4 separate regions of the Homo sapiens genome follow, and all the other regions are linked to region 1. The links come from fine-mapping of genetic effects on gene expression. A gene starts in region 1. Each other region holds a variant in brackets. All regions are shown on one strand. Distances are from middle to middle. Region 1 holds the start of EHD4 (EH domain containing 4). Region 2 overlaps INO80 (INO80 complex ATPase subunit). Region 3 overlaps SPTBN5 (spectrin beta, non-erythrocytic 5). Region 4 overlaps SPTBN5 (spectrin beta, non-erythrocytic 5).

Region 1 (2,742 bases):
TATTTAGGTCACTGGAGTGGAGAAAAAGAGGTCGCTACTTAACAGAAATGGCATGTATCCAAATATAGATGCAGTTTTCTCAACACCTGTTGCACATCAAATGATGAAGAGATTGTTACAATTTCCAAAACCCTGGACCAAAACCTTAAATGATCAGCACTTTGTTTCAACTGATACACGGCTTAAGTCAGAAAAATAAGTTCTTCTTACCAAAAACAGTGAGCCTAAATATGCTGGCTGCTTTAGAAATAAAACAGGTGATCAACAAAGCAATCTGTTTCTGTCTAAATAATTTCCCAGCAAAAGTCACTTCTTTTGAAACTATATGATTTGAACCACAGGGTATGCACAGTGATTGTGTGCTTTCAGAAACACGGTAAGCATGACAAATATTTTCAGTTGTCAAGGGTAAGCGAGGAGGGAATGACCCACCTAAGAAATGGAAACTAACAAATAGTAATATGACACTCCCCCTTAGTTCCACAGGCTGGTGCGGCTGCTACACGCAGCTCACTTCCTACGGGCGGCTAAAGGCGGTGCATGAACTGAACGTAGGCGGCCTCTTTATCCCCTCCCCACAACACTGTGGGGTGGCACGTAAAGACCTCAAGGGAAGGGGGCCTGGGCGATACGCTCTCCTGCTGCCATTCATTTGTTCAAGAAATAGTTGAACAAATGAATAGTTAAACAAACTCTCCAACTAGGACTCTGTCCCATTCGGATACCCTACGCCTCTCCCCCCATTTCCATCCCTAGGCATCACTCCCTCGTCAAGAATATGCTGATTATGGCTCGCGCCCCCTCTCTCCCTTGGACCCTCCCGCCAGGGCGACCGGACGAGGCCAGCGGGAGCAACGCCTTCCGAACCGCAAGGAAGGAGGGCTCGGAGTGCGCAGGGCGCGGGTTCGCGGGACCCTCCAGCGCGCGGGGCTGGCCAGCCGGGGCGGGGCCGAGGGCACCGGGCGCCGAGCTCCGGGAGGGGTCCCCGAGGTCGCGCCGGCCGGGAGGGGCAGCGGCGGGAGGCGGCCGACTGCGGCGCACACGTGGGGAGGGCGGAGCGGGGCGGGAGCCGGGCGAGGGGCGGTGACGGTACCTGATGAAGGTGGTCTTGCCGGTGCTGTACTGGCCCACCAGCAGGATCATGGGCTTGTTCTCGAAGTCGGCGTCCTCCAGCGCAGGCGAGTGGAACTCGTGGAAGCGGTACGCCTCCTCCAGCGGCAGCACCTTGCGCAGGTAGAGCGAGCGCAGCCCGCCCGTCACCGTCTGCACCGCGTCCGCGCCGCCAGCGCGTTCGCGCCCGCCCGCCTGCCGCCCCATCCAGCTGAACATCCTGCCGCCAGTCCACGCTCGGATGGGACCCTGCTCCGGGTTCGACTCTCCCCGGCTCGCACTGAGCCGCCCCGGCCGCGCTGGCCGCCGCCCGAGGAGGGCCCCGCCTTGTGCTGCCACAGCCAGTCTTCGGCCGCTACGTCACGCGCGCTCGCCCACTATTCAGACGAGCTCTCTCAGGTCCTTCCTGATTGGATCTCTGCCAGAGAGGGCTGAAGGCGTCAGCCAATTGAGAGGAGGTTCTTAATGAATTATTGATGACGGAGTCATTCTAGAGGACTGGGCGGGGAGATGGTGTCTTCCCGGCCGGGTGGCACTGACCGGTCATGCTCAGGGCCCCCTTCTGGTTGCCGGTGCCTCACCTCTGGCCAGGTGGCATCGGCTTCCGGGTAAATCTGAGCTGCCCAAAGCGAGCCTCCGGAGGCTGCTCCATCTCCTGGAACGTTTACTCATTCAGGCCTCTGGACGTCGATACTGGGGATGAAAAGTTCAGAAAGTGGACAGGCAGGTTCTGTCTTCCCGGGGGCGGGTGGTTATGACTCCGTTTTACAGGCCAAGAGACCCAGGCTCACGGGCATAATTGACACAATCTTGAGGGGAAGTGGACTGGAATCTATTTGAGTAGCCGTTTCTCCTACTTCTCCACATTGCCCTCACTAAATTCTGGATCAGCTAAAGGCTTTTTCCCCTTAGTTTTCTTTATGTGTTTTTCTGTAAAGCCGAAAATTTAGTCATTACTCTCATTATTACATTATCCTCATTATTACAACTTTATTTCCACATATTGACATGTGAGTCATTGTCACCTCCTAGCTGTTTTTTGTTGTTGTTGTTGTTTTCTGAGACGGAGTCTCGCTCTGTCGCCCAGGCTGGAGTGCAGTGGCACGATCTCGGCTCACTGCAACCTCCGCTTCCCGGGTTCAAGCAATTTTCCTGTCTCAGCCTCCTGAGTAGCTGGGACTACAGGCGCTCACCACCATGCCCAGCTAATTTTTGTATTTTTAGTAGAGATGGGGTTTCACCATATTGGTAAGGCTGGTCTTGAACTCCTGACCTCAGATGATCCGCCTGCCTTGGCCTCCCAAAGTATTGGGATTATAGGCGTGAGCCACCGCCCCTGGCCTGTTTCTTTTCTAGGTTAAAAGGATACTCACTTATCTAAGTTGAGATTGGGGGAAATAATCACCTTTTGTGTCCTTGATTGTAGCTTAGGAATATTTCTTAGTTGTTTTAGAGCATTTCTCAAGTGTGATCCATGGGGCCACCTGCATATATGCATTTATGAGCTGGGATGCTTGTTAAAATGCAGATTCCTGGTCTTCAGTCCAGACCTACTGAGTTAAAATATTGAGGAGAGATGGAGCTCAACAGATGCCCTAGGTGACTCTGATGTGGCCTAAGTCTGGGGAAACA
Region 2 (2,500 bases), 890 kb before region 1:
TCATTCCTAAGATAAACAATAAAATGAAAACATAATCCAAAATACCAAATTATATGGAACACAGAACACAGTATAAGTAGCATATTAAAGAGTCATTATTTTGTTTTCTTTTTCTTTTTTTGAGATGGAGTCTCGCTCTCTCACCCTGGCTGGAGTGCAGTGGTGCAATCTCGGCTCACTGCAACCTCCATCTCCCCGGTTCAAGCGATTCTGCTGTCTCAGCCTCCCGAGTAGCTAGGACTACAGGTGTATGCCACCACACCCAGCTAATTTTTTGTATTTTTAGTAAAGACGGGGTTTCACCGTGTTAGCCAGGATGGTCTCGATCTCCCGATCTCTTGATCCGCCCACCTCGGCCTCCCAAAGTGCTGGGATTACAAGCGTGAGCCACCGCGCCCAGCCTTGTTTGCTTTATTTTTTTTTTTTTCCAAAAAAGAGCATTATTGGTCCAAGAGTCATTATTTTGAATTATTTCATAACAAAATTCATAAAATATACTTGATTTATCCTTGATCCACTCTCCCAAAAGAAAAACAATACAATAGGGAATACAGCAAAAAAAAAAAAAAAAACCCAAAAGGCTGAAAGTATATTTTATAAAGCAGTAACCTACGTAAAACTATCCTGTCTCTTTAAAGCTTTATAGCACTTGAGCCAGATCCAAAATAGAAGAAAACTTGAGAAAGAGAGTGAGAGAAAATTAAGTTTTTGTCTTCATGAATGTTCATGTTTCAAACCTAAAGTGCTATCAAGAAAATCTTTGTTTTTTTCTGAAGAGATGGTATCTTACTCTGTCACCCAGGCTGGAGGCAGTAACAAGAACACAGCTCACTGCAGCCTCAACATCCCAGGCTCAAGCAATACTCCCACCTCAGCCTCCAAAGTAACTGGGACTATAGGCATGTGCCACTACACCTGTCTAATTTTTCTACTGTTTATAGATATGAAGTATCACTATGTTGCCCACACTGGTCTTGAACTCCTAGATTCCAGCGATCCTCCCGTCTCTGCCTTTCTGCTAGGATTATGGGCATGAGCCAATACACTCAGCCTAAGGAAAACTTTCTAAAGTAAAACAATTAAGAAAAAGAATAACATCTTTTTTTTTTTTTTTGAGATGGATTCTTCCTCTGTCACCCAGGCTGGAGTGTAGTGGCACGATCTCAGCTCACTGCAACCTCCACCTCCCGGGTTCAAGCAATTCTCTGCCTCAGCCTCCCAAGCAGCTGAGATTACAGGCGGCCGCCACCATGCCCGGCTAATTTTTGTATTTTTAGTAGAGACAGGGTTTCACCATGTTGGCCAAGCTGGTCTTGAACTCCTGACCTTGTGATCCACCCACCTCGGCCTCCCAAAGTGCTGAGATTACAGACGTGAGCCACCGCGCCCGGCCAAGAATAATATCTTTAACCCTAAAGAAGTTAACTACCATATGATTAAATGAACGAAGTAGATTAAGAAAACAGAAAGGATATGTCAAAATTTTATTTCAGAAGTTCAAAGAAAAATGCATAAGTCAGCATAACCATCAGTTAGCTATCAACATAACTAAGAAT[C/T]TAGGTCTCAGAAATCTAGAATATAGGCCAAGTTGCCTGCAAAACTTCAAGATCTGTGGCTAACTCTGAAATGACTTTAAATTCTCTGAGTTAAGAATTCCCAAAAGCATCAAATGTTTACTAACTTGATAATTATGATTACCTTGCATGCAAATATACGAATTAACCAGGAGACTTAAGAGAACTGAGCAAAATCCATCTTCATTCTCGAAGTCATGATAAAATAAGGGAAGATCAAGAGCTCAGAAAAGGCTCCAAAGCTCCACTTTGACATGAGTTACTACATATACCTGAAAGAAAACATCATCCAAACCACTAATTCCCTTCTTTCTTCAAATCTCAACTCTCCTTCCATTCATCTCAGCTGGTTTATCAATGGCAATACAATGATTTGCCTTCTTACTCTCTCCTCTTGCTTCCCTCAGCAATATACACAGCCTACATCAGCTGGCATCAGGTTTACCAACAGTACTGGCTGCAAGTTAAAACAGTAAAGTAGGCTGGGCATGGTGGCTCACGCCTGTAATCTCAGCACTTTGGGAGGCCGAGGCAGGCGTATCATCTGAGCTCAGGAATTCAAAACCAGCCTGGCCAACATAGTGAAACCCTGTCTCTACTAAAAATACAAAAAATTAGCCAGGCATGGTGGTGGGTGCCTATAGTCCCAGCTACTCAGGAAGCTGAGGCAGAATTGCTTGAATGTGGGAGGCAAAGGTTGCAGAGCCGAGATTACGCCACTGCACTCCAGCCTGGGCGACAAGAGTGAAACTTCATCTCAAAACAAAAAAATAAATAAAACAGTACAGTAGGTGAAGGGTAAGTCTTAGAAAACTGGGCTCATTGTCCACTGTCCCTATCTGGCCCTGAATTTGGCATCTATTTCTTACTGTCCAAAAAAAGCAAAACTGCAGTCAGCACCTACAAACAAACCAAGATGAATTAAA
Region 3 (2,742 bases), 83 kb before region 1:
TAATTTTTTGTATTTTAGTTGGAACGGGGTTTCACTATGTTGGCTAGGCTGGTCTCAAACTCCTGACTTTAAATAATCTGCCTGCCTTGGCCTCCCAAAGTGCTGGAATTACAGGTGTTAGCCACCATGCCCAGCCTCACTTCCTGTTTATAAACTCAAAATATCAAGGCTCAGCAGGCTGCACTTCCCCTGCCCTCTGGGCCCCAGAGCTTGGGTAGGAAGGACGTGCATGGTGCCCACATGAGGGGGAGTGGAGTCTCGAGGCCCTGGGCCCCAGCGAGGTCAGGCCCCAGTACCCTGCATGGTGGGGCCAGGCTGGCAGACGGAACTAAGGAAAATGCTGGGATGGCTTGTGAGGGATCGGGGCTAGCCTGAGCCCAAACATATCTGAGTCAGCAGGGAGCAGGGCTGGAGGGGGCTGCAGACAGACAGAGACGGTGCTGGTCAGGGAGGATGCCCACCTGCTGCTCCCAAGGGCCTGGGCTGCAGGGGACACCTGAAACTGGCCAGGGGCCTGAGGAGGTGAGTATGGCTTCCTGAAAGGGCTTGAGGTCAGTTAGAAATTCATCCGTCCCTTCAGCCTTCAAATAGATGCTCAGCCTGCAGACACACAAGACCCCTGCTCTCCTGGGGCTCAGGCCCTGAGTTTCCAGGCCATCCTGGACTTCTGCCAGATCTCTGGCTTCTTTTCATGAGGGTTTCATTCTCCAGGTTGGCTTTCCTTACCTACTAGAATTGAGTTTTAGGTGGCATTTTGGAAATCATGAAACTATGAAAAAGTATAACTATAAGGACTCTTTCTTTTTTTTTTGAGACACGGTCTCACTCTGTGACCCAGGCTGGAGTGTAGTGGTGTGATCTCGGCTCATCACACCCTCAGCATCCTGGGCTCAGGTTAGCTTCCCACCTGAGCCCTCCCGAGAGCTGGGACTACAGGCATGTGCCACAAAGAGTTTATAGTCTTTCTGATCCAGTGTGGGGGAAAGAGGTGGAATGAAGGAAGCTGGGGACCATGAAAGAAATGCTGTATCTTTGGTGTGTAGGGTGCCAGGGACTTTGTAAACCTCCAGAGCTGGGACTCCCTCCACACATTTCATTTTTCCCAACAGTACATTGTGGTGTAATGGAAGTTACAGAGCCTCAGTGCCAAGTGGGGAGCACCACACAGGGGTGAAAGTGGGTGCTGGGCAGTGACCCTGAACCCCCCACTAGTGAATGACTTGCCCAGACCTGGTTTGAAGCCCATGGCCCTGGCCCTCACTTTAGCATATTACAATGTTACAATATCTCTGGTATCCTGGGTTCTTCACCCATGGTTGGAGAGTGAATATGGACTTTGCAGTTTCCAGGATCTCCTATGGGGATCATAAAAGTTGTGTGGAACTTATGAATCCCCAGGGGTCTGAGGTGAGGCCAGGGCTGGGCTGGGTCACCAGGTGCTGGGTACTGGGGACTGAGCCATACCTTGTCCAAGGAGATGTGGGAGATCTGGAAACGCAGAATGATGACCCAGATGAGTCCCAGGATGAGTGTCTGGTCTCCGTCCACGATGTTCTCTGGCCCGATGAGTGGTACTGGCACCTGTGGGCACAGTTGGATGGGCTAAGCCATGAAGCCCA[T/C]GTCCAGAGAGGACTCAGTCACCAAAAGCTTAGGGGGCCAGCTGCGGGATGGGAGCATCCTGGAATCTATCCTGCCCCAGCTGGGAGTTCCCTCAGGGAGAAGCAGGCAGGGGATAAGTCCAGGAAAGCAAAGGCTTCCTGCCTGGTTGGAGCCATGGCCTCAAGCCCACCTGGGTGAAGCCCCAACCTGGTGAACTGGGCTGGGCCCTCAGAGCAGGAGGACTCCCTGTGTGTGGGCTACAGGTAGACCTGGGCCAAGATCAGTGGTTCAGCTGCAGGGTTTGGAAATGAGGGGTCATAACAGTCAATGTGTGAGCCCAACAGACAATAGCAACTGTCTGCCTCCATCTCCCAGGGTGTCCTGGGATCTTCAGGGGGTGGCTGGGTCCCTGGGCTCACACCCAAATCTCAGCCCTCTTCTTCTGTTCCGGCTCCAACAGGGCCAGCTATAAATCCAGACTCCCAGGCTCCACCCAGTCAGACTGTCTTGGGCCAGAGCCTGGGAATTTGCACTTGAACAACACCTTGGGTGGCTCTTAGGTACACCAAAGTTGAGACTCCTCTGCCCTACATCCTGCCATTTGGACAGGGAGGATGGGTGAGTCAAGGGGAGAAGCCCTGCAGGATCTGGCCCCCAGCCCCCTGTGGCTCCATCTTCCACCCTGTGGAATCACATAGCTCCAAGGCCCATGGGATTCTTATAGTTCCATGGGATTCTAAGCACAGGACTTCAGGCCTTTGCAGGGCCGTGCCTGCTGTCTGAAAGTATTCTCCCAGGTATCTGCATGGCTATTCACCTCCCTGCCTTTAACTCTTCACTCAGATGTTGCCTAGCCTGACCACTTTATTTAACACAGAAACTTAAGGACTATTTCTCCCACCCAAATACACACTCTCGATCCCCTTGCCCTGCTCAAGTGAGGATCTTGGCTTTGTTTTCTGGTGTATCCTAGGGGAGTGGCACACAGCAGGCAATCGATCAGTAAGTACTGAATGGAGAAAGAAAAGGAGTGAGACTTTCCATAAGACCTGAAGGGCAACTGGCTTCAGCCGGCCACTACTAGCCCTGTGGGAGGAGCTGCAATCCTGGGTGTCCCCCTAGGTAAACTTTGGTATATCTGGC
Region 4 (2,742 bases), 98 kb before region 1:
AACTCAAAGGATGACAGGTAAAGCCTGGGAGGAAGACACCTGTGGGAGATGTGGAGCGGGCTGGGCAGGTGACCTTGACAGAGGAGAAAGGTGCCAGGGGTGGGGTAGAGAGGAAGCAAGAGGAGGCGGAGAAACCCCAAGGCCACAGGGAGAGGCAAGACTCGTAAGAAGATGAAGGGAGAAAGCGTGTACATCACAGTGCCCAGGTTGCCTTGGAAGAAGGGGCACTGTGGGATCTGGGTGGGAAGTGGGGATGGGGCTGTCTGTGTCTCCAGGAAGCAAGAGCAGGGCTCCGTGCCTCTGAGAGAGGGAGGGTGACAGCCCTCTCCCCGTGGTCCATCATCACCCAGACCACACTGCAGGGGAGGCTCAGGACGTGGTACCTGGTGCTTGTTAATGAGCCTGAGGGTGGCTGCCTCGTCTCTGCCATAGTCCCGACTGCTCACCAGCGGCCGCTTCTCCTCCACCCAGCCCTCCAGCTCTGACACATCCAGAAAGTACTGCCAAGAGTGGGGCCAACTCACCTGGAGGATCTCAGACAGGACCCTCCGTCAGCCCTGGAGACATCTGCCCCTGCTCTCCAGCATCAAAGGGGCTTCTGTGCCCATAGGGGCACCCATCAGCTCCCAGCCCAGAGCCCCCACCACTGATCCGCCTCCCTGAGAGTCCCACAGGTGGCCCCTCAAGGAGCCCTGACTTCTGCCTCTTCCCCCAACCCCACCTCTCTGCATCCTACCTGCTGGAAAGTGACAGCCTGCTGCAGACACTGGGCCCGCGCTTCACATGCCCTCTCCAGCTCTGCCCAGTGGCCTTCCAGCTCCTGGCACTGCTCCACGATGTGTTGGGCTTGGGGGTGCCCTGAGGCTGCCAGGCTCCGCCCAGAACTCAGCACCCGTTGCACCTGCCCCTGGTGAGCTTTTACCTCCACCTGGAGCTCCTGCCACAGAGTGGCTTGAGAGGCTGCTGCTCTTAACCCAGGGGCGTCCGGAGCAGAGCCATGGATGTGGCTCCAGGCCCCAATCATGGCAAGACCCCCAGGGTCAAAATAGCTGGGGCAGAGATTTGGAAATTGGGATACCCAGGGGTGAGGGCTTAGAGGCCAGGACACCTGAGTAGGGGCAGAGGGTTTCTAAGGTCTGGGAAGCGGATGTCGGTAATCCTGTAGGAA[G/A]AAGAGGGCTATTACCTTGTGCTTGCGGTGAAGGCTCTGGGCACCATTCAAGCACTCGGTATAGCTGGTGGGGCTGCCATGGGGCATGTGCTCGGCTACCCAAGAGAGCTCCATGTTGCTCAGGTGGCAGAACTGGTGCAGCTCCACTGAGGCCTGCAGCTGCAGGCCCCGGATGGCCAGATGCCCCTGCAGAAGCTCCAGCCTAGGAGGAGGAGGAAGAGATTGGAGAGGTTGGGAACAGAGTGAGCACAAGGCTCCTGGTTCTTTCCTTGGCCAAGCCAGGGCCCGTGAAGAACAAGACCAGGGAATAGAGCAAAGCCTCATCTGACAAAGGGAGGCAGTGGAAGGGCGCCAGGGCCCCACCTCATGGCCTAGATGACTCGCGTGACTGCACTGTGGGGGTCCTGCTAAGGAAGCATAATGGGGTCTCCGACCCTCCCATCCCAGAATGACTCTACTCATAAGGGAGGAGGTCTGGACACCCCGGTCCTGTGGGTGCCATCTTGTGGGACCTTAAATTCACATGGAGGAGTGACACACAGGTGGGTGGGAGGACAGACCCCACCTCCGGAGGTGCTTCTGGGTCTCTTCCAGGATGGCCGGGGAGGCGGCCATGCCATGGGCCATGGAGGCGAGGGCAGCCATCTTGGCAGCCAGGGTCCGGCTCTCACTCTCCAGCTGTTGGTGCCGTTTCTGCAGCCTCTGGCTGGAGCGCAGGTCCTGCCCTGTTTCCGAGCTCTGTAGGGCCCCTTCGAGCTGCTCCAGCTGCTCCTTTGCATCCTGGGAGGGACGCATGGAGCTGCATTAGGTTCTCTGTGTACAGCACAGCAAGTGGCCTTCCCGGGCTCTGGGACTGTTGGACTTTTAGGACCAGATTCACCAGGGAGCTCTGTCCCCACCACTGCCAACCCTCGGCCAGAAGTGCCCAATCTTCCCCTGTTCCCTCACGCTTCTTCTTCCCTGGGGGACTCAAGTGGTGCTGACCACCCGCTGGGCACACAGGAGAGAATCCTGCATTGGCCGACTGAGCGGAAAGCCACGCTCAGCTTGTCCTAGGCCAGAAGCCTCCAGAGGCTGCAGAGCCAGGGTCAGCAGAACACCCAGACTTCTCCCTCCCCGTTCTGTCCAGCCCAGCCAGGCCTCCGTCTCCCTCTTGTGCCCTGTCCCTCTTCCCAGTGGACCTGCAGCTGCCTCAGGAGTTGCTCCTGCTGTCCAGCCTGCTGGAGCTCGTCCCCACGCTCAGTCATCTTGCGGTTCAAAGCTTCCCACTTGCTTCTCAGGCCTTGAAGCCTGGTCTGTATGTCCTCCTGGCCACAGGGCCTCCTACTCAACAGCTCTCTCCCAACCTGGAGTGGAGATAAAGGCCCAGGGAGTTTGGCTGAGCTGCTGGTACCACCAGTGGCCGCAGCAGGCTGGACCTGGGTGGCAGTGGAGGTGAGGGGGTGACCACAGCTGCACTCCACGGGCTGCCTGGAAGAAAGCAGTTCATGTGGCCCCAAAACTGCAGGTAGGGGGGCTTTCCTCTGACCCCTGCAAATAGAGCGGGGTGAGCCGGCATTAGGTTGGTGGCTGGG

What was found. PIP is the estimated chance that this variant, and not a neighbour inherited with it, causes the effect. A credible set is the group of variants that fine-mapping cannot tell apart.
Region 2: its variant is the best candidate, but not a certain one, in a credible set for the expression of EHD4 in whole blood (INTERVAL, PIP 0.66).
Region 3: its variant is the best candidate, but not a certain one, in a credible set for the expression of EHD4 in cerebellar hemisphere (GTEx, PIP 0.52).
Region 4: its variant is the best candidate, but not a certain one, in a credible set for the expression of EHD4 in whole blood (INTERVAL, PIP 0.75).

Annotation. Positions count from the first base shown.
Region 1 is chr15:41,971,166-41,973,907 of GRCh38, forward strand. It overlaps EHD4 (EH domain containing 4), which reads right to left and starts at 1,392. Exons shown (of 6, transcript NM_139265.4): 1 at 1,094-1,392. The coding sequence starts at 1,329. PLA2G4E-AS1 (PLA2G4E antisense RNA 1) reads left to right here and starts at 1,598. Exons shown (of 4, transcript NR_120334.1): 1 at 1,598-1,833; 2 at 2,639-2,742. RefSeq lists silencers at 834-1,103, 1,204-1,273, 1,314-1,443.
Region 2 is chr15:41,076,805-41,079,304 of GRCh38, forward strand. The region is part of intron 9 of INO80 (INO80 complex ATPase subunit); the gene reads right to left. Among named protein-coding and RNA genes, the nearest start is that of INO80, 38 kb to the right of the region's middle. The variant C/T (reference allele first, on the strand shown) is at 1,557.
Region 3 is chr15:41,888,625-41,891,366 of GRCh38, forward strand. It overlaps SPTBN5 (spectrin beta, non-erythrocytic 5), which reads right to left. Exons shown (of 68, transcript NM_016642.4): 4 at 1,465-1,581. Among named protein-coding and RNA genes, the nearest start is that of SPTBN5, 4.1 kb to the right of the region's middle. RefSeq lists an enhancer at 2,145-2,742. The variant T/C (reference allele first, on the strand shown) is at 1,620.
Region 4 is chr15:41,873,109-41,875,850 of GRCh38, forward strand. It overlaps SPTBN5 (spectrin beta, non-erythrocytic 5), which reads right to left. Exons shown (of 68, transcript NM_016642.4): 22 at 2,350-2,514; 23 at 1,734-1,948; 24 at 1,184-1,370; 25 at 737-937; 26 at 384-500. Among named protein-coding and RNA genes, the nearest start is that of MIR4310, 7.9 kb to the left of the region's middle. The variant G/A (reference allele first, on the strand shown) is at 1,169.